Linked DNA regions of Homo sapiens: region 2 is linked to region 1. A link means that fine-mapping ties the variant in region 1 to the plasma level of a protein whose gene starts in the linked region. Region 1 holds a variant in brackets. A gene starts in the other region. All regions are shown on their reverse strands.

Evidence for each region. PIP is the posterior inclusion probability: the model's chance that the variant is causal. Protein levels are from antibody-based Olink assays in UK Biobank. Linkage for the fine-mapping came from a reference panel and not from the study's own genotypes, which makes the PIPs less certain.
Region 2: it holds the start of IL12A, and the variant in region 1 is fine-mapped to the plasma level of the IL12A protein (UK Biobank, PIP above 0.99).

Annotation. Positions count from the first base shown.
Region 1 is chr5:159,341,515-159,351,142 of GRCh38, reverse strand. It overlaps IL12B-AS1 (IL12B antisense RNA 1), which reads right to left. Exons shown (of 5, transcript NR_037889.1): 3 at 3,538-3,627. Among named protein-coding and RNA genes, the nearest start is that of IL12B-AS1, 15 kb to the right of the region's middle. The variant C/T (reference allele first, on the strand shown) is at 5,034.
Region 2 is chr3:159,980,462-159,990,089 of GRCh38, reverse strand. IL12A (interleukin 12A) reads right to left here and starts at 1,255. Exons shown (of 7, transcript NM_001397992.1): 1 at 916-1,255. The coding sequence starts at 931. It overlaps IL12A-AS1 (IL12A antisense RNA 1), which reads left to right. Exons shown (of 10, transcript NR_108088.1): 9 at 797-993. RefSeq lists enhancers at 995-1,044, 544-1,044, 1,045-1,545, 2,397-3,596 and silencers at 1,165-1,214, 1,285-1,484.

The sequences.
Region 1 (9,628 bases):
AGGTTTGTTACATATGTATATGTGTGCCACGTTGGTGTGCTGCACCCATTAACTCATCATTTACTTTAGGTATATCTCCTAATGCTGTCCCTCCCCTCTCCCCCCACCCCATGACAGGCCCCAGTGTGTGATGTTCCCCATCCTGTGTCCAAGTGTTCTCATTGTTCAATTCCCACCTATGAGTGACAACATGCAGTGTTTGGTTTTCTGTCCTTGTGATAGTTTGCTCAGAATGATGGTTTCCAGCTTCATCCATGTCCTTACAAAGGACATGAACTCATCCTTTTTTATGGCTGCATAGTATTCCATGGCATATATGTGCCACATTTTCTTAATCCAGTCTATCATTGATGGACATTTGGGTTGGTTCCAAGTCTTTGCTATTGTGAATAGTGCCACAATAAACATACATGTGCATGTGTCTTTATAGTAGCATGATTTATAATTCTTTGGGTATATACCCAGTAATGGGTTGGCTGGGACAAATAGTATTTCTAGTTCTAGATCCTTGAGGAATCGCCACACTGTCTTCCACAATGGTTGAACTAGTTTACAGTCCCACCAACAGTGTAAAAGTGTTCCTATTTCTCCACATCCTCTCTAGCACCTGTTGTTTGCTGACTTTTTAATGATCGCCATTCTAACTGGTGTGAGATGGCATCTCATTGTGGTTTTGATTTGCATTCAGGAAAGCTAATGTTGTAGTTCTAGTTTGAAAGCCAGCAGACTCAAGACTCAGAAAGAGCTAATGTTTCAATTCAAGTTCAAAGGCAAGAAAAAACAGATGTTGCAGCTCAGAGGTAGTCAGGCAGAAGAAATTCCTTTTTATTTGTGGGCAGGGTCAGCCTTTTTTTCTATTCAGACTTTTAACTGATTAAATGAGGCTAAGCTACATTACGAAGGGAAATCTACTTTACTCAGTCTATCAATTTCTATCAATTTAAATGTCAAACTAATCCAAAACATCCTCCCAGAAGCACATAGAATAATGTTTGACTAAATATGTGGGCACCTCATGTCCCAGTGAAGTTGACACAAAAAATTAACCATCACAGCAAGATTGCATGAAACAAGATCAATATACAAAAATAATTGTATTTTTATACAATTGCAATGACCAATATGAAAATTAATAGGAAAATTCATCTGCAATAGCACCAAAAAGTATTAAATACTTAGGAATAAATTGAACAAAAGAAATGAAAGTTATATGCTGAGAACTGCAAAACATTGTTGAGAAAATAAAGAAGGTCTAAATAAATGGAGAAAACCCTATAATCACGGGTTTTCCAATCCTTAACATTGTTATACTCCCCAAACTGATGTGTAAATTCAACACATTCCCTATCAGAATCCAAACTGACTTCTTTGTACAAATTAACAAGTTGATTTAGAAACTTATATGGAATTAAAAGAGATCTGGAATAGCCATAATAATCCTTAAAAAGAAGAATAAAGTATGAGGACTCAAACTTCTCTATTTCAAAACTTAACTACAAAACAACAATAGTCAAGACAGTATGGTACTGGCATAAGGATAGGCATACAGATCAATGGAACAGAACATTGAGAGCACAGAAATAAACCCATATGTCTATGGTCAACTGATTTTGGCAAGGGTACCAAGACCCTTCAGTGGGGGAAAATGGTCTTTCCAACAAATGGTGCTGGGATAACAGAATAGTCACATGAAAAAGAATAGGGACGTCTATAGAGATTTAAATTAGATTAGGGGTAGTTTATGGCTGAGGATGGGGTCAGGGTGGTAGGTGAGTGCTAGCCAAAAGATAGGAGATTTCATCTCAAGGGGATGAAAACTTTCTAAAATTGCGGTGGCTCACACCTATAATCCCAACATTTTGGGAGGCTGAGGCAGGAGGATCACTTGAGCCCAGGAATTTAAGACCAGCCTGGGCAACAGAGTGAGACCCTGTCTCTACAAAAAATTAAAAAGTTAATACCGAGTGTGGTGGTAGATGCCTGCAGTCCCATCTACTCAAGAGGCTGAGGCAGGAGGATTGCTTGAAGCCAGGAGGTCTAGGCTTCAGTGAGTTATGATTGCAATGCTGCACTCCAGCCTGGCCAACAGAGCAAGACCCTGCCTCAAATAAATAATATTTATATATCAAATAAATAATAAATATAAAATTGTGTAAAATTTAGTATATTAACATATGTGTAACCATTTGTGTGTAACCATGTGAATATATTAAATTTTACACAATTTTAATTTAAAATTGTTACACATATGTAAATATATTAAAAGCCATTGAATTGTATACTTTAAATGGGCAAACTGTATAGTATGTGAATTATATCTCAATAAGGCTATTTGTTTAAAAAAAAGAAGAAACTCTAAATTTTAAAGACAATGCAAAAAATACACAAGGCATCTCATTAATTTTTACACTGATTACATATTAAGATGATAATATTTTATATATATTGGTTTACATAAAATATATAATTAAAATTAATGTCATGTTTCTTTTTATTTTTTAATATGGCTACTAAAAAAATTCAAAATTACATATATGGCTCATTTTATATTTCTATTGGATAACGCTGCTCTAGAGATTTTACACACATTTGTAAAATGTGTGTAAAAAAACACTCTGAACCCTAACTTCCTTATATGTTATAAGGCTGTAATAATAGTACTGGCTTCACACAGTTATGGTGAGGATTAAATGGTTTTAAAGAACTTAGCATTTGGATGTTAGCTTTTATTCTAAGTGTTAGTTCTTATTATCAGAGAAGCCTCTGGGTACCATTGAGTACAGCAGTGATATAAAAAAACCCCAGTAGACACCTTGGATTTATTTTACTATTATAAAATTATTTTTAGAAATGAATCTTAGAAACCATCACATCCAGTAATCACTAACTGTCACCTTGCCAAACTGTTGTTTAACAACCCCCTGGTTTTCAAAACTTGAATCTGAGTATCTTTATTGTGGGACTGCGCTCTCTACTTTGCTGTAAGCCTGACCACTCCCTGTTCCCTTAGCAGAGCCTCACACCTGAGTTACTTCCTTGGTATTGGAGGTATTTGCATTTATACCTGATCCTACACTAGTCCAAGCCCCTCACCTTCCTGATGAAGAAACTGGGGCCCGTGGAAGGGACACTGAGCTGCTAAATGCAGAATTCAGCCTGCAGAGGACCAGGCCAGTCCTCACACAGGCAATGCATTATCCAGAAGACCCTGACTAGCAGGGACTGCAACACAGGCTATTCAGCTTGTATGCTAACACGCTATCCTTGGGAGTCTTGGTGGGACTTCCAGTGTTCTTTAGTTTATTGCCACTGGAGAACTAAATCATTATTGGCAATCATGATACCTTTAATGGAGACCAGTGGATCATTCTGATGCAGAGGGAGAGAAGATGGTACTTGGAACTCAGAAGTTCCAAATAGCCTGGTTTAACATACGCAAAAAATCCAGTTCTGTGTAAATCTGCCAATTAGCCATCTCTGCAGCACTGATCTCCCTTTTATTTCCTTCCTCATACTTGTTTATCAAATAATACTTACCAAAGCTCAATCATCTGATTCCCAGGGTAAGCCCAGAGAGAAGTGTGACCTGGGATAATTAGTCCCATTTCATTGTTGAGGAAACTGGGCCTAAAGAAGACAGGAATGGGAGAGCTAAGCCAGGACCAGAAGAGAGTTTGGCAAAGTTCACTGAATGCATATTTTGTTTTTGCCATATGCAAATACCACCTGCATTATTTAGTTATCTTTCTTTTTCTTCTTCTTTTTTTCTGCTCTGTCACACCAGTGCAGTAGTATGATCATAGCTCACTGCAGCCTCAAACACCCTGTCTCAAGTGATCGTCCCACTCCTCCCACCTCGGCCTCCTCAGCAGCTGGGACTACAGGTACGTACCGCTATGCCTGGCTTTTATTTTTAAGAGACGGGGTCTCACTACGTTGCCCAGACTGGTCTCAAACTCCTGGCCTCAAGTAATCCTCCTGCCTTTAGTTTTTATTTTCCTTTAACAGGCACTTACTGTTTTTATGTAAGTCAACTGATGTTGAAAGGAAATTTTACTTCAATGCCTTCAGTAGAAAACTAGTATCACGTGCCATTAATAGAAGGTTAATAAATATAATACAAAACAATTCTAATTAGAAACCGTTGTCTGGAGAGCTTCTAAAAATCCTAATGCCCAAGCCAGACCTTAGAGCTATTAAACTGGAATTCCTCTGGGGAGGAAGCAATTAGGCATAAGTAATTTGTTAAAGCTCTCCCCAGGAAATAGCATCATGCAGCCAAGGATGAGATCCACTAGAATAGATGCTGTTGCCTGCTAATGCCTCTAAGGCTGAAGAGTGCTTGCCCTCCTTAAGAAGAGAGATCAACAAGTGATAGAGAGGTATTAAAGAGACAATAGGCCTGGCGCGGTGCCTCATGCCTGTAATCCCAGCACTTTGGGAGGCCGAGGCGGGAGGATCACAAGGTCAGGAGATTGAGACCATCCTGGCTAACACGGTGAAACCCCATCGCTACTAAAAATACAAAAAATTAGCTGGGCGTGGTGGCGGGCACCTGTAGTCCCAGCTACTTGGGAGGCTGAGGCAGGAGAATGGTGTGAACTCAGGAGCCGGAGCTTGCAGTGAGCCGAGATCGCACCACTGCACTCCAGCCTGGGCGACAGAGCAAGACTCTGACTCAAAAAAAAAAAAAAAGAGAGACAATAGCCTAAAACCGACACTTTCTCCTTAGCATCAGAAGAACTGAAAAGTAACTTTGAAATGGGAAAAGTTTTCATTTGTAATTTGTTACTGTTGAATCAGTTGCTCCTTTGCAGTCTAAAACCAGCTCACATGGCACTTGCCCTTTGGAAAACACTGGATCAGAAGACCCCAGGTGGTGTGGTTTCTATTCCTGTGCCCTTTCAGCTCCAGCAGCTAGCTTCCCAGCCAAAGACTCCCACAAGGTCACTGGAGAACCCCTACTCACCTCTGTGTGTTCTCCAGCAGGGACTCCAAAATGCCTGCATTTACATCACACTGTCAGACACATC[C/T]TTCTATTTCAAAATGAATCTTCTCAGTGGCTCACATTAAAAACCTTAAGGCAAAACCGCATCTCCGTCTCCTTTCATTTCCTCTCAAGAAGCCCCTTGTTTTCGTCTAGGAATATCTGGCCCTAGAGAAGGCTTAAGTCAGCCCTGCCCTTTTGGATCTTAAAAAGAGGTATAGCTAGGGAAGAGGGAGAAACAGGAGACTCAGTGCAGATCCGCACATGACTTTGAGAGGGTCTTCTGCTGTGAAGTTTCTCTTTCATCCCTCACCTCTGAACACACACAAGACTGTCCTGATGGACGGATGCATTTAGAATGAAAGCTGGACTTTTGGGTGAGGATTCCAGATCTCCATAACATCATTTTCTTATCTGGCTTGGGGCATCACTGAAAGAACTGGGTACCTGCCTCTGTGGACTAGGGTTTGAAGAGCTGCCCCAGAAGGACTACATGGCCTCAAGAGCAAGCAGTTTGGCTCACTAGGCAGGTTGTTGAGCAAACCTCTGATCTGCTTACTTCCTACATTTACAACCTAGAACGCTGACACAGTGCCTACCACCAGATGAGCAGGCTACTTTACTGTCTTGTCAGCAGAATCCTTCTGTCTTGTTTCCCTTAGAGCCTAAGGTTCTGCTTTGAGGTCTCCTCCCTATTCTCCATCTCAAAGTTACACAGTCCCACCTCCTAGCCTTAGCTCTTGTTGTGCCCATAGTCCAGAATGTTCTTCTGCCCCATCCCTGTCTGTCCAAAGCCTACCCACCCTCAAAGCTGATTGAAAATGTCAACTCCTCCATAAAGCCTAAGATGATTCCCCTGGTCAAATAATAACAGTAATGGAATTAACAAAAAATAACAGTAATAATAATAGCCTAGCATTTGCTGAGTACTGCTGTGGGCAGGCAATGGGCTAAGATCTCATACTCATAATCTCAACCAAATCTTATACTAGATGTATCTTATTATCCCTGCCCTGCCATTTTTGATATCAACTTACTTGTTCTCTCTGTGCCTCATTTTTCTCAGATATCAATGGGGATTATAATATGTCTTCCTTGTAAGATTGTTTTAGGTATAAAATAAGCTAGTGTATATAAAGCATCAGCATAGTACCTGACACTATGGTTTTGGCTTAGTGAGTATCATTACTTCTTGTAACAACTTAAAGGTCTGGGTTTGTACTGATAAGGACAGGAGGAAGGGAAATACTGGGTAGAAGAGGGCAGGGTCCATGGCAAGGACTCCACCCTCAAGCCTGGACCCGCAGCCCTAGATGAGAACTTCACATCCCTGTTTTCCCGCTCGAATGTTGCCTTTTCTAAAACCACCCTGGCATGCCACACTTCCCTCCCCACCCTGTACCCACAAAAACTCCAAGTTCCACTGGCAGAGGAGCAGAGCGGTGCAGCAGAGAAGGAGAGAAGGGAAGAAGTGTCTGAACATCAAGAGTAGAAGAGGCAGCTGGACATCGGAGACTATGGTTGGAGAGGAATTTGGCCAGGAATGGCTGAACTCCAGAGGAAGAGTATCTTCCCACTCCATCCCCTTTCTAGCTCCCCATCCCACTGAGAGCCACCTCCACCACTCAATAAAGTCTCCACATTCACCATCCTTCAAGTCCCTGTGACCTGATTCTTCCTGGACATAGGACAAGAACCTGGGTATCAAGAGGGCAGGGTGTGAAAGGCTGTCACCCCAACCCTCCACTGAGCGGGTAAACACTTAGCTGTCTGTGGACAGCAAATGCTAAAAGAGTATTGTTTGTAACACATGCCCCCTTGGGCTCCAGAGGTCATGGACAACCCCTAGACACTGCCACAGGCTGGTACACAGTTTGTTCCTAATGGCTTCCAAAGGCAATCACCCCAGCTCCTGCTCCTGCTCTCCTGTGTGCTCCCCCTCATGCAAGGGGTTTGAGTGCAGTGGCCAAGTAAACAAGTCACCAATGTTGCAAGTCCCATGAGGAGGTCAAGGGAACAATCCCATCTCAGTATTATTCTCATCTTATAGATGAGAAAACCAAGCAATAGAGGTTGAGTAAACAGTCCAAGTTCAGTGACAAGCAAGAATTTTACTTCCCTCTGGTCTTCACTGAACTTTGCTCATCACAAAGATGATGTAAGGATAATCTTCCAGTTGCCATGGGAACTCATTTCATCAGCATCTCAGCCATCCTAGATGATTTGCATACATGACTTTATGCAGAAAGAGAAAGTTAAACTGACTTGAAGTCAACTGGCTCTACTGGCTACTGTCCTTTGAGATACTGTGATATTTGCATTGCATCATGGTTCTAGGGTATCCCAAAGACAGGTCTGCTCATTAATCCTCATACTTTCTCTCATTCACCAAGAATGTGATCCAGCTAGGGAAACAGACGAGAGCGACCAAGGAACGTGCTGGTGGAGCAGGTGTTGAATTCCTTCTCTGCATTTCTGCTCTTCCACTCTTTAATTGCCTTCTGGCAGGATGTTCCTGACTGCAGAGGCAACACCTAAAGCTTAGCCAGCTTAACTGCAGGTCTGCACAATAACAAACCCTTCAGAATTTCAGCACTCATTTCTTCATCAAGGGCCCCAAAATTATGGTTGTGTATCACCTACTCATTTCCTCTTGGTTCAACCTCACATGCTTTCATACTACTGCTGACCATCTGTACATGTTACTCACCCCTTTCCTCCTTTCCTCTATTCAAATAAGCCAGGCTGGGTTCGCACTCCAGAGGTACCCCTATTGATGGTTGGGCAAATAGGATACAGTTTCCAGAAAGAGTGACAACTTTGCTTCCTGGAATCCCTGCACAAAATGCAGGGTCACATATGGCCCTGAGGAGGGATTTGGTGGCAAAGAGATATCTAACTTTAGTAGTTTGAAAGTACTATGGCTAGCTGTGGTTCCAAACTCTCTACCAGGTCACCCTGGGGTAGCATAGTAAATTCACAGGACTGTTGGGAGGTATTTTAAATTTTCCAAGGGAAAGACAGGATCCTCCATATCTGTTGAACACTGCACAAACTCAGGGTTGTTCATGGTTTCAACATTAGATTACGTCATATTCCTTTCAGTGATGGCATCTTTTGGGGAAGCCATGTTTTTGGCAGTTACTGTGACAAAAAGCAAGTGCCACAAGGAAATCAGTGTGGAACAGGAAATGAAGGTGGCAGTGTCCACTCTGATTCCAAAGTTTAAGGAGTTGCACAGTGCCCAGCAGGCCACACATCCCATGAGTAAGTAATTGTGATGATTTCAGAATACAAAAAAATATTTTTTTTGTTTCAATGTATCATTTTTTTTCAAATGGCCAATACAAAGTTTTTAGCACATAAAGACTTTTAAGCGATTTGACCCTAACTAGTTAATCAATGAATCTATTTGGTATTTCTTTTGGCCTACAGATGCCATGAAAAAATTACTGAAGCACTAAGCGTTCTGCGACCAAGGAAGATTTGGAAACTTCTGGTCTGGTCAAGTCAGCCATGTTTCACAGCTCCCAAGAACTTCATTGGTACCTGATCCTATGACAAAGCATACCTGGGTCTTGGTTTTGGTTATCGTGGTTGTTTCATCTCAGAGACTTTTACATATTTTCAGTGCTAAATGTGCCTACTACATGGGGCCTGTGCAGCCATGTGCCTCGGCCAGCACCTGCCTCAGACTCCCTGGGCATCTCTCCCTTTCCTCTGCGCTTAAGTCACACCAACCTCCTTTCCATTCCTCCAACCCGCCAAGCCCTCTCCCATTGTAGGGGCTTCTTACTGATTCTCATCCTGGTTCACCTGTAGGTCCCAACTTAAATGCCACCTCATCAGAGAGCCCTCCCCTGTGATTCTCTGTCTCACCACCCATTCATTTCCTTCATAGCATTTTGTCCTCTGCACATATCTATTTAGCTCTATGAGGACAGAGTCCAGGTCTGATCTGCTTACTACATTCACAGAATTTAGCTGGGTGCCTGATATGTAATTGTCACTCAATAAATAACCGCAAGGTTAACAAGTGTCAGTTTAAATCATACACACATTTTAACTGGGGCCCTGTGCAGCCCAAAGCATTTCAGAAGGCTTTTCTGGCAAACAGCCCATCAGATAGACACGTGGGACAATTGCATCACTAGCCACAGGCAGAGACAGTCAAGGGCGGTGTTTGCGATCAAGAATCCCAGCTCTGCCACCTCCTTGCTGGCAGACATTGGGCAAGTTACTCATTCTGCCTCTACCAGCCATGTCTTTGCTTGGAAAAGGGTTGTTAAAAGGACTAACTATAAAGCTCTTAAGTAAAATCTGTCAAGAAACAAGCACTCTAAATAAAAGTAAGCTGCTTTTATTAGGACAAGGACAGTGTTCAAGGACTATCCCATGAATGCCCACACACCATTCTGAGAGGAAGTTTCTGCCTCAGAAACTGACAGGTCCAATGCTTCTTGCTTGTTTTAGAATAAAAGGCTCAATTCAAAAAATGATATATGGACAATTAATTCTTAGCCCCATTGGTGTCCCCCACACAACTCATGATTAAAACCAAAAAGAATCTGTTATGGAACTTTGATTATCCAGCTGGACAACAGAAATGGAGAATGTTAGGCAGTGACTGTCAATTTGTCT
Region 2 (9,628 bases), not on the chromosome of region 1:
CTTCACCCATCCATTCATGCTTGGCACCCACCTCCCTCAACCCATTTCCAACACTTTTCCTTCAACACCTGAGAGATGACTCGAGTTATTACAAAGCGCCACTCTATTCTAGGGCTAGAAGCCAGCTCCCTGTGAGGGTCTAGAGATGAGCTTGGACAAGGGTGTTGAACCCAACACTCACCCAGAGAAAGCCTACATGTTTTTGATCAGGGAAACCCAGACCAGGTGGTGAAGTGGCTGAGTCAGACTTGGGACCCAGTGTTTTAAAAACAGTGGAGTGAGAAAGCCTGACTTTTTTTGTTTTTTTAAGACGGAGTCTCACTCTGTGGCCCAGACTGGAGTGCAGTGGCACGATTTTGGCTCACTGCAACCTCCACCTCCGAGTTCAAGCAATTTTCCCTGCCTTAGACTCCCGAGTAGATGGGATTACAGGCACCCACCACCACACTCGGCTAATTTGTGTATTTGTTAGTAGAGACGGGGTTTCACCATGTTGGTCAGGCTGGTCTTGAACTCCTGACCTCAGGAGATCTGTCCGCCTTGGCCTCCCAAAGTGCTGGGATTACAGGCGTGAGCCATTGCACCCGGCCAAGCCTGACTTTAGAACTGGCTAGGATCTGCCTTCTGTTTGTAGCTGAGGGACCCTAGGCAGGAAAGCAGGAAATCTCCCACGCTGGGCCTCAGTTTCTCCTCTACGAAGTGGGCATAATGATAGCTCATCAGGCTGTTTCGAGATGAAAAGAGACATGCCCTATTTAGCACACGGTGAGACCCCTATTCTTATTCCTCTTTGCAGGAGACGGCTGCTGCTGTTCCAGTCTCTCCTTAGGCAGACTTGAGTTTCTACCCACTCTTCCCAAGCAGCCGCCCCTCCGCACCCGAGCGAGCCAAAGACCTGGCGGGCTGAGTACTCACTGCGCGCTGGACACATGCTGAGCCGGCACTGCAGGGACACAGGGCGAGCCGCTGGATGCAGACCTGTGGCCGCGGCAGGTGAGGGCGGTGGCTGGGAGGCTGACCCAGGGGGCCACATTTTTATAATTGTCCCGAGGCGCGGCAGGACTTTCCCGGGACTCTGGTCTCTTGCTTTCTGTCTCCTTCTGTGTCTCTCTCTACATCAGCTTCTCGGTGACACGTGCGGTGCGGCCGGCCCGCGGGGCTTGCGGCGCTTTCGGATTAACTCCCGGGGTGCCCGGCCGCAGCCGTTCCGGGACGGCCCCGCCGCCTCCAGCTCGGCCCAAAATGAAAGCGAAATGTTCGCAGTTACTGCGCGGGGTCCACAGGCGGGCGGGACACCCCGCCCACCACCCTGGGTCCCCGGCCTTAGCCGGACGCCCCGTGTCTAAGCTACCCCGCCCCGCAGCTGTGCAGCGCCCCCTGCCGACGTAGAGAGAGGAGTGCCTCCCACTTTGCATGTCCTGCGTAGGGATGGGCCCTAACCACGACCTCCAGCCTAGTACTGGAAGGGGTAGGCAAATCATTCACTCATCATCGTTCCTTTAGATGGCTCACTAGATGCCAGGCCGACGTTGCACCAGGTGCAGGACACCCAGGGAGAACAGGACCCTTGGGGCATTGCCACACTAAATCAGACTCAAGGCGTTTTGTTCACAGGTCTTTTCTGAAACCTGAAAAGGGATGAGAGCTGGCTGACTCTGCAATTATTACTCTTGTAGAGAATCCAGTTTAACGATAGGATGAATACACAGAGTCCTGGGAGGAAAGACCTAGAGAAAGAGCCCACGCTCAGCCGGAGCAACGGGGTCCAGGAGTCAGCAAAGGCTCCCGGGAGCAGGCAGGGGCCCCAACCTGAGTGTTAAAAACAAGCAGGCATTAGACCGCTTCCAGCGGGAGGGCACGCAGGGTCTAGCCAGGGGAAACAGGGATCAGAAGCGCAGTCATGAAGGGTTGAGGGAGGTGGGGGTCTAGGTGTCCTTGCAGGGTGTGAGGCTGGAGGGCTGGATGGGGCCATGCCATGAGGGCAGGGGATGCCATACTAAGGAGTGTACTTTCTGTGCTGAGAGTAGTGGGGAGTCTTCCTGGGTTTTAGGCGGGAGATGTGGCAGAATTTGCATGATGGGGGGATCCCTTCAGCCACAGCATGAAGGATGGATCCAGGGGTCAGGAGTAGAGCAGAGGGAAGAGTTGACAAGGTGTGGCCAAGTCCTTATTCAGTATGGAGAACACAGGGTGGGCAGGAGGGACTCTCAGAGGGCTTGTGGGCCAAGGCTTGGTAGCTCCTCAGGTGAGCGGGAGAGGAAGGCCCTGAGAATGGGGAATGGAGATTGTTCTAGCTTTACAGGGATTACTGTATAAGAGGACTGAGTTTGGAGGAGATGGTGAGAAGTTCCATTTTGGATGTGCTGGGTTTGAGGTTCCTGTGGGACTTTTTAGTTCAGTTGTTTTTCCCACAGGCATTAGTCACCCTAGGCGTGGGTAGTGGGGAGGATGTGTTTGATCTCTGACTTGGAGCTTCCAAAGGGCCTGACTACACCCAGGCCCTAGGACCTAATAACTGGAGCTGCCTTCTGGGTGGCTCATCTGCTCGAAGCTGATGAAGCACGGCTGTAGGGAGTTTTAGGTGTGTGTAAAATAAGAGAAATGGTTGATCTCTAAGGCCCCTTCTAATGCTGCTGTCTGAGAATTCCCCCACGGGATACAGAGTAATCCATTGTCAGAAACAATTGCGTTTAGCAGTTTGTCTAGAGCAAATGACAGGTGCAGAGCTGTGTTGTGGCCACAAGGGTTTAGTGTGGAGTTAAATGTACTTAAAGTCAGGATGAAGACAAGTGTATCACAACTGAGCTGTTTCTCCCCTGGAAGGGCCATCTCCTATACAAAAGTAATTTCTGTTGCTTAGATGAGCACAGGGCCACTGTTAAAAATGGATTATTGGCTACCAGACACAGTTTCTAATTTACATTTTTGTGAAATAGTTTCCTGAAGTGCTCCATGTCCTCTAGCTAAGATGAAATGAAAACCTTCTTCTAGGAATACATGATTTTTCTATAAGTGACAGTCTTAGCTCACAATCACTACTTCACAGTGTGTAGCATTGTCGTGGAGGTCTCGGCCAATGCTATAAGGAAAGAAAAAGAAATGAGAGCTTTAAACATTGGAAAAGAAAAGGTAAAACTGTCACTTTTTACAGTTGATATACAAAAAGAAAAAAAATTAATAGACTATTAGAACTAAGAAGAGAATTTAACAACATCATGCAATACACATATCAACTTAAAAAAAATCAGCCGATTTTCTTTGTATCTGCAACAATCCATCAGAAAATGTAATAAAAACAAGATGACATGCATAGAAGCAGCCAAACTATAAAGTAACTGACTGTAGATACAGAGGCAGTATAATGGCTAAGAGTATGGACTAAACTATGTTAATCCAGGTTCTGCTACTTACTTGCTGTGTGTTCTTAGGTGAGTTATTTATCTCTCTGGGCTCAGTTTCCTCATCTGTTAAATGATGATAATAAAAGTACCTACAGTATAGAGTTATTATGATTATTACATGAGCTTGGATAACTACAGAATAGTGTTTGGAGAAAAATTTTAAAGTTCAGTCAAGAATATAGTGTGATTTAATTAAATAATTCTATACCCTTGGGTGGAAGGTTTCTCTATATAGAAAGCTTAAGCCTCTTTTCGTTAATTCACATGCTCAATGTAATTCCAATACAAGCTACAAATAAATTTTCTCAGAAACTTAATAATAAGCCTACTCTAAAATACAGATGTAATAAAATCTATGACTAAGTTAAAAAAATTTTTTTTGAGACATGGTTTTACTGTATCACCCAGGCTGGAGTGTAGTGGTGGCACAGTCACAGCTCACTGCAGCCTTGACCTCCTGGGCTAAAGTGATCCTCCCACTTCAGCCTCCTGAGTAGCTTGGACCACAGGCAACACCATCATGTCCAGCTAATTTTTATTTTTGTATTTTGTAGAGACGGAGTCTAGTTTTGTTGCCTAGGCTGGTCTCAAACTCCTGGGCTCAAGTGATCCACCCACCTTGGCCTCCCAAAGTGCTGGGATTACAGGCGTGAGCTGCTGTTCCTGGCCTTAAGTAAAAATGCTAAGGGAATAATGAAAAGGGGGACTAACCCTATCACATATGGACATAATTTAAAGCCATAGAAATTAAAGTAGTGATCTTTGCAACAGATCAGGCATATGGACCATTGAAACAGAGTAGAGAAATTATAGATAGATTTGTATATTTGGGTATTAAGTATAAGATAATACAGATGATTCCCTGATCAATGAGGAAAACATGCAATATTTAGTAGAAAATACTCAATGGGCTGGGCATAATGGCTCACACCTGTAATCCCAGCACTTTGGGAGGTCAAGGCAGGAGAATTGCTTGAGGTCAGTAGTTCAAGGCCAGTCTGAGCAAAAACTCCCTACAAAAAATTTTTTTAAAAAGAGAAAATGTTCAGCGTATGATGAAAAATAAAACTGGACTCCAATCTAAAACAACAGAGGTGAATCCATTTGGAAGTGAATTAAAGACCAAATGTGAAAAGTAAAATTGTTACAGTAGTAGAAGAAAATATAGAGGACTGTCTTTGTCACTTATAAGTGGGAAGGACTTTTTTAAAACTTCTAAAGCTCCAAACCATAAGGCAAAATACCTATCAATTGGATTACATAAAAATGAAGATTTCTGTTTTACACATTTCCTCTATGCATGAACCAAATGAACAGACAGCTGACAGATTGAGAGAAGATATTTTTCAGTGTCTAAAACCAATATTTTCAATGTCTAAAAACAAGGAACTCTTGTAAGTCAGCAAGAAAAAGACAGAAACACTAGTAAAAAATGCGTAAAGCTCATGAATAAGCAATTTAACGAGAAGAAACCCCAAAGACTAATGAGCATACCTGGAGGCTCAGTTATATCAGAAAATGCAAATGAAAAAAAGAATGAGATATCTCTTTACACCTCTTAGACTGACAAGTTGAGAACACTGGATACTGGTAAGTGTTGGGAAAATGGGGGACTACAGGATCTATTATATCACACCATGCCAGTAGGCTGACATGGCTGTTTTGAAGGGTATTCTGGCATTCCTTGACCAGATTAAGTATATTCACACCCATGACCCAGCTGTTAACCCTGGGTGTATATCCTATGGAGATTCTCATACAGGTCCACAAAGGAACATGTATGAGGATGTTCATTAAGTCATTGTTTGTAGTGATGGGGAACTGGAGGCAATGTAGCTGCTCATTACTGGGGGAGTGGGTGAGTGGAATGTAGGGATCCACTTCATGGAGTATTCTACGGCAGTTAGAAGTAATAGACTAGATGTACATGCAGTAACATGGATATGTATTAAAAATATAATACTGAGTAAAAACAGGAAAACAGAGTAAGATCTCTCTCTATAATGTATAAGTAGACAATTAAAACCCTTTGGGGCTGGGCACAGTGGCTCATGCCTGTAATCCAAGCACTTTGGGAAGCCAAGGAAAGTGGATTGCTTGAACCCAGGAGTTTGAGACCAGCCTGGGCAACATAGGGATTCCCCATCTCCACAAAAAATACAAAAATTAGTCAGGCATGGTGGCACATGCCTGTACTCCCACCTACCAAGTAGGCTGAGGTGGGAGGATCACCTGAGCCCGGAAGGTCAAGGCTATAGTGAGCCATGATTGTGTCACTGTACTCTAACCTGGGCAACAGAGTGAGACCCTGTCTCACTTAAAAGAAAAGAAAAAGGAAAGAAAGAAAAAGAAAAAAATGGGGGGGCTCAGATTTGTTTTTGGAATTCAAAATGCTTGGAATTTAGAAAAGGAAGAGGTGGCATCGCATAATCAAGCATAATAGTTCCGCAGCAAAACATAGGAATAGTTACATTGAGTGGCTAAAGAACCCCAAGTAACCCCTTGTCGCTTCAGTCAGATTTCGCTGTTAAGAATTTAAGAGAAAACTTCTGGTGTCCAGAGCTGTGTAAGTTTAAGAATTGTGAGTAAGTGATTGCGGAACTCTATTGACTTAAATGAGAATGATATATTCAAAATAGTACACATTATACAAAGACACAGACAAAAGGATATATATTAGTAGGATAGATCCCACTGGGGAGTGAGGGGAATGAGAATGAGGACTAGTGATAATGAAAATATATAAATACATTTAGATATTTGTATTTGATGGGGACAAATAACGTCATGGATTAAAGAATATGGTCCACTCCATCCTCTTCATCAGAAGTCCTTTGTCCAAAAGACAGATAGACACCTTCTGTAAGCAGATGACTCAAGGTCATTGTTTGCAAACTTCAATTGCTATTTGGTACATTCAGGTAGTTTTTTGTTTTGTTTTGTTTTGTTTTCGAGACGGAGTCTCACTCTGTCGCCCAGGCTGGAGTGCAGTGGCTCAATCTTGGCTCACTGCAAGCTTTGCCTCCCAGGTTCATGCCATTCTCCTGCCTCAGCCTCCCGAGCAGCTGGGACTACAGGCGGCTGCCACCACACCTGGCTAATTTTCTTGTATTTTTAGTAGAGACAGGGTTTCACCGTGTTACCCAGGTTGGTCTTTATCTCCTGACCTCGTGATCTGCCTGCCTTGGCCTCCCAAAGTGCTGGGAATTCAGGTAGCTTTTATTGTTAGTTATTCCTTTCCCATTCGGTTTGAGCTATGAGTCAATCAGGCATTTTCATCACTGAGAGACAAGGGTCTTTTCAAAAATTTGACAGAATATATTAAAGATCTATTTCTGTGGTTCTCAGTTGGAGATGGCCTTGCTCCCCAGGGGACACTTGGCAATGTGTGGAGACATTTTGAGTTGTCATAATTGGAGGAAGGGGGTTGCCACTGGCATCTAGTGGGTAGAAGAATGTTGCTAAATGCTGCTGAACATTCTACGGTACACAGGATAGCCCCTCACCCGCCCATCCGCCCCCCCAGACAAATAATTTTGTGATTCAAAGTATCAGTAGTGCTGGAAGAGAAACCCTGGCTGATTTGAGTAGATAGCTCGATATGCCTGTCTTCATTGTTATTCTCCCTGACAAGTAGACAAGGTCAGAGTCATAGGACCTGAACAGAAGATTTGGAACTATATCTTTGGTGCCATAATTTAGGGTGGCAGCTCATCCTCAGATGAAGTGAGATCCCAAAGAGGCTTGTGATCAGTTGAGACCGTAAATTTGCATGTGTAGGTCAGCACTGTAAACGTGATTTTCCTTCATAAAATAGCAAGGTCTCTGCTGTCAGTTTTCCTGTGGCTCTTGTCCATAAATGTCATTCAACTTGAGCATAAATCAGCTGGTGCCCACATGGCATCAATCTGGATTCCAATCCTGAGCTTCAATCCTGAAAGGTGGCCTGTCAGGGTAAGAAGCAGAGCTCTGTGTTCCTTGTTGAACACCAACCCCCAGTGTTACATGCTGAGGAGCTTGGTTCTGTGGAGCTCTTTCTTCTTTGCTGACATATCTGAGCAGCAGGGGGAGAAATAGTAAGTGAGCGGAGCCAGAAAGGCTATAGCACTAAAGGAACTTTGGGCCTACGATCAAAAGACCTAATTTCTAGCCTCTTTCTGCTACTTGGTACCTATGTAAGCTGGGGCAAGCCACTGCCTTTCCTAATTTTCATATCAGCAAAATGGAGATGGTAATCTTTTGTTGTGCTAGTTTTGTCACGCAGATCAATTATACAGTGAACAGGTAAGAATTTTGTAAAGTGGTAGAATGTCAACAATATTAGATATCATTCTACAGTGAGTGATAGTGAAATATAGTTATTAATTTTAGATTAAGACACACATACAGTTTCTTCCAAAACTATTTCTTTGCTCTCTTTGAAACATTAAGTGGCAACTTCTCAATAGCGGTGGAGGGGAGTCCTAAATATTCATGACACAGTGTCTGTAGGGAACATCCATGAGCCATCTATCCTGTTTTTGAGAGACTTCAAAAATCTTGACAACGGGCTTCAAGAAAAAAAATCCAGAAAGGTGTCATTTATTACTTATTGGTGCTCCAGAATAAAGATTGTATGAATACTTTTGCAAACTTTTCTGCATCTTGAGACAGTTTAGCAACTTATCTGAATATGATACAACACCTGGGCATTGTAGTCTCATGAATAATTAAGATCATCTGATGCCCAGACATTATAAAGAAAAAAAGGATAAATTTGACTGTAAAAATCAAATATTTTGATTCGTTGTCTATAGGAATTTTGAGTTGTCTATAGGAATATTATAGACAACTTTTAAAGAGAAATCATAACCCAGAAAAAACATTTACATGAACATGTAACAAACCAAGAGCTAATGTCACTGTGTAAATGCAAAAGTCAATAAGAAAAAGGCCAATAATTCAATTCAAAACTGGGCAAAGGATATGAACAGACAGCTCAGAGAAAAAGATACACAAATTACTTATAAACATATGAAAAATACTCAGCTGCACTGATAATTGAATAAATGCAAATAAAAATAATAGATATAATTTTTATCCTGTAGTTTGCAAAGCTAAAAGTTTGATAGTTTGTAAAGTGTGTAAGGGTATGTGGAAATGTGTAATCTAGTGAAATCTATTTGGAGGGATAGTTGGCAATAGCTATCAAAATGAAAAATGCACATACACTTGTTCAGCAATTCTACTTCTAGTAATTTATCCTATAAAACTATTTGCATGTATGCATAAAGACTTATTTCCATTAAAAATATCATTTTTAGTATCAAAAAACTTGAAATGCTTCCAATGTCTTATTAGCAGGAAACCATTTAAATAAAACATGACTCATCTTTTCAAGGGACTATTATGCAACTATCCAAAAGATTGAGGCAGATTTATATATATGACAGGAAAAATCTTCATTACTTGAAAAGTCGTGCAAAATCAAGGTTCAGACTAGTGTATAATATGCTTCCATTTGTACAGAGAAAAAAGTATATTCATGTACAAACACACATAGATACACGTGTAGTATAGATATAAATCTATGCTTCTAAGAGTAGTGACCATTGCCTCTAAAGAAGTAGACTGAGTCTTTGAAGTAGGAGGAAAACCTGACTTTTATTGAATATGCTCTGTACTTTTTGAATTATTTAACATACAAATGTATTATAGCTTCATTTATTTTTGTTTTGTTTTTATTTGTATTTTAACTGCTAAGACAGCTGCTGTAGCCATTCTGACAGCTTTTGAGCAGAGAATTTCCTCTATGTAGCAGCATTCTTGCAGGATTTACCATATGAACATCAAACATTGAGTATGTAAGTGGATTAACTCTCTACCCTCAAGTCAGGGGCTTTGTGTCTGACTCTATCTATCCATCCATCTTTTCATCCATCCATCTATCCATCCATCTATCCACCCATCTATCCATCCATCCATCCATCCATCCACCCACCCACCCATTTGTCTTCTCACTGTTTTGTAAGTATTCTGCATGTGTACTATGCACATTTAAATTTAGAATACCATTTTAACTCTATTATGTGTACCAATATAATTTAACTGGCTAGAATTTTTCTGCCCCATGGCCTTGTAAAGTGGAAAAACTATGGGCTTTGCAGTTCAGGCTAAAATCAGTTTCCATCCCTTTCTAGCTGTGTGATCTTGGTCATTTCTTTAATGTTTCTAAACTTCTATAAAAT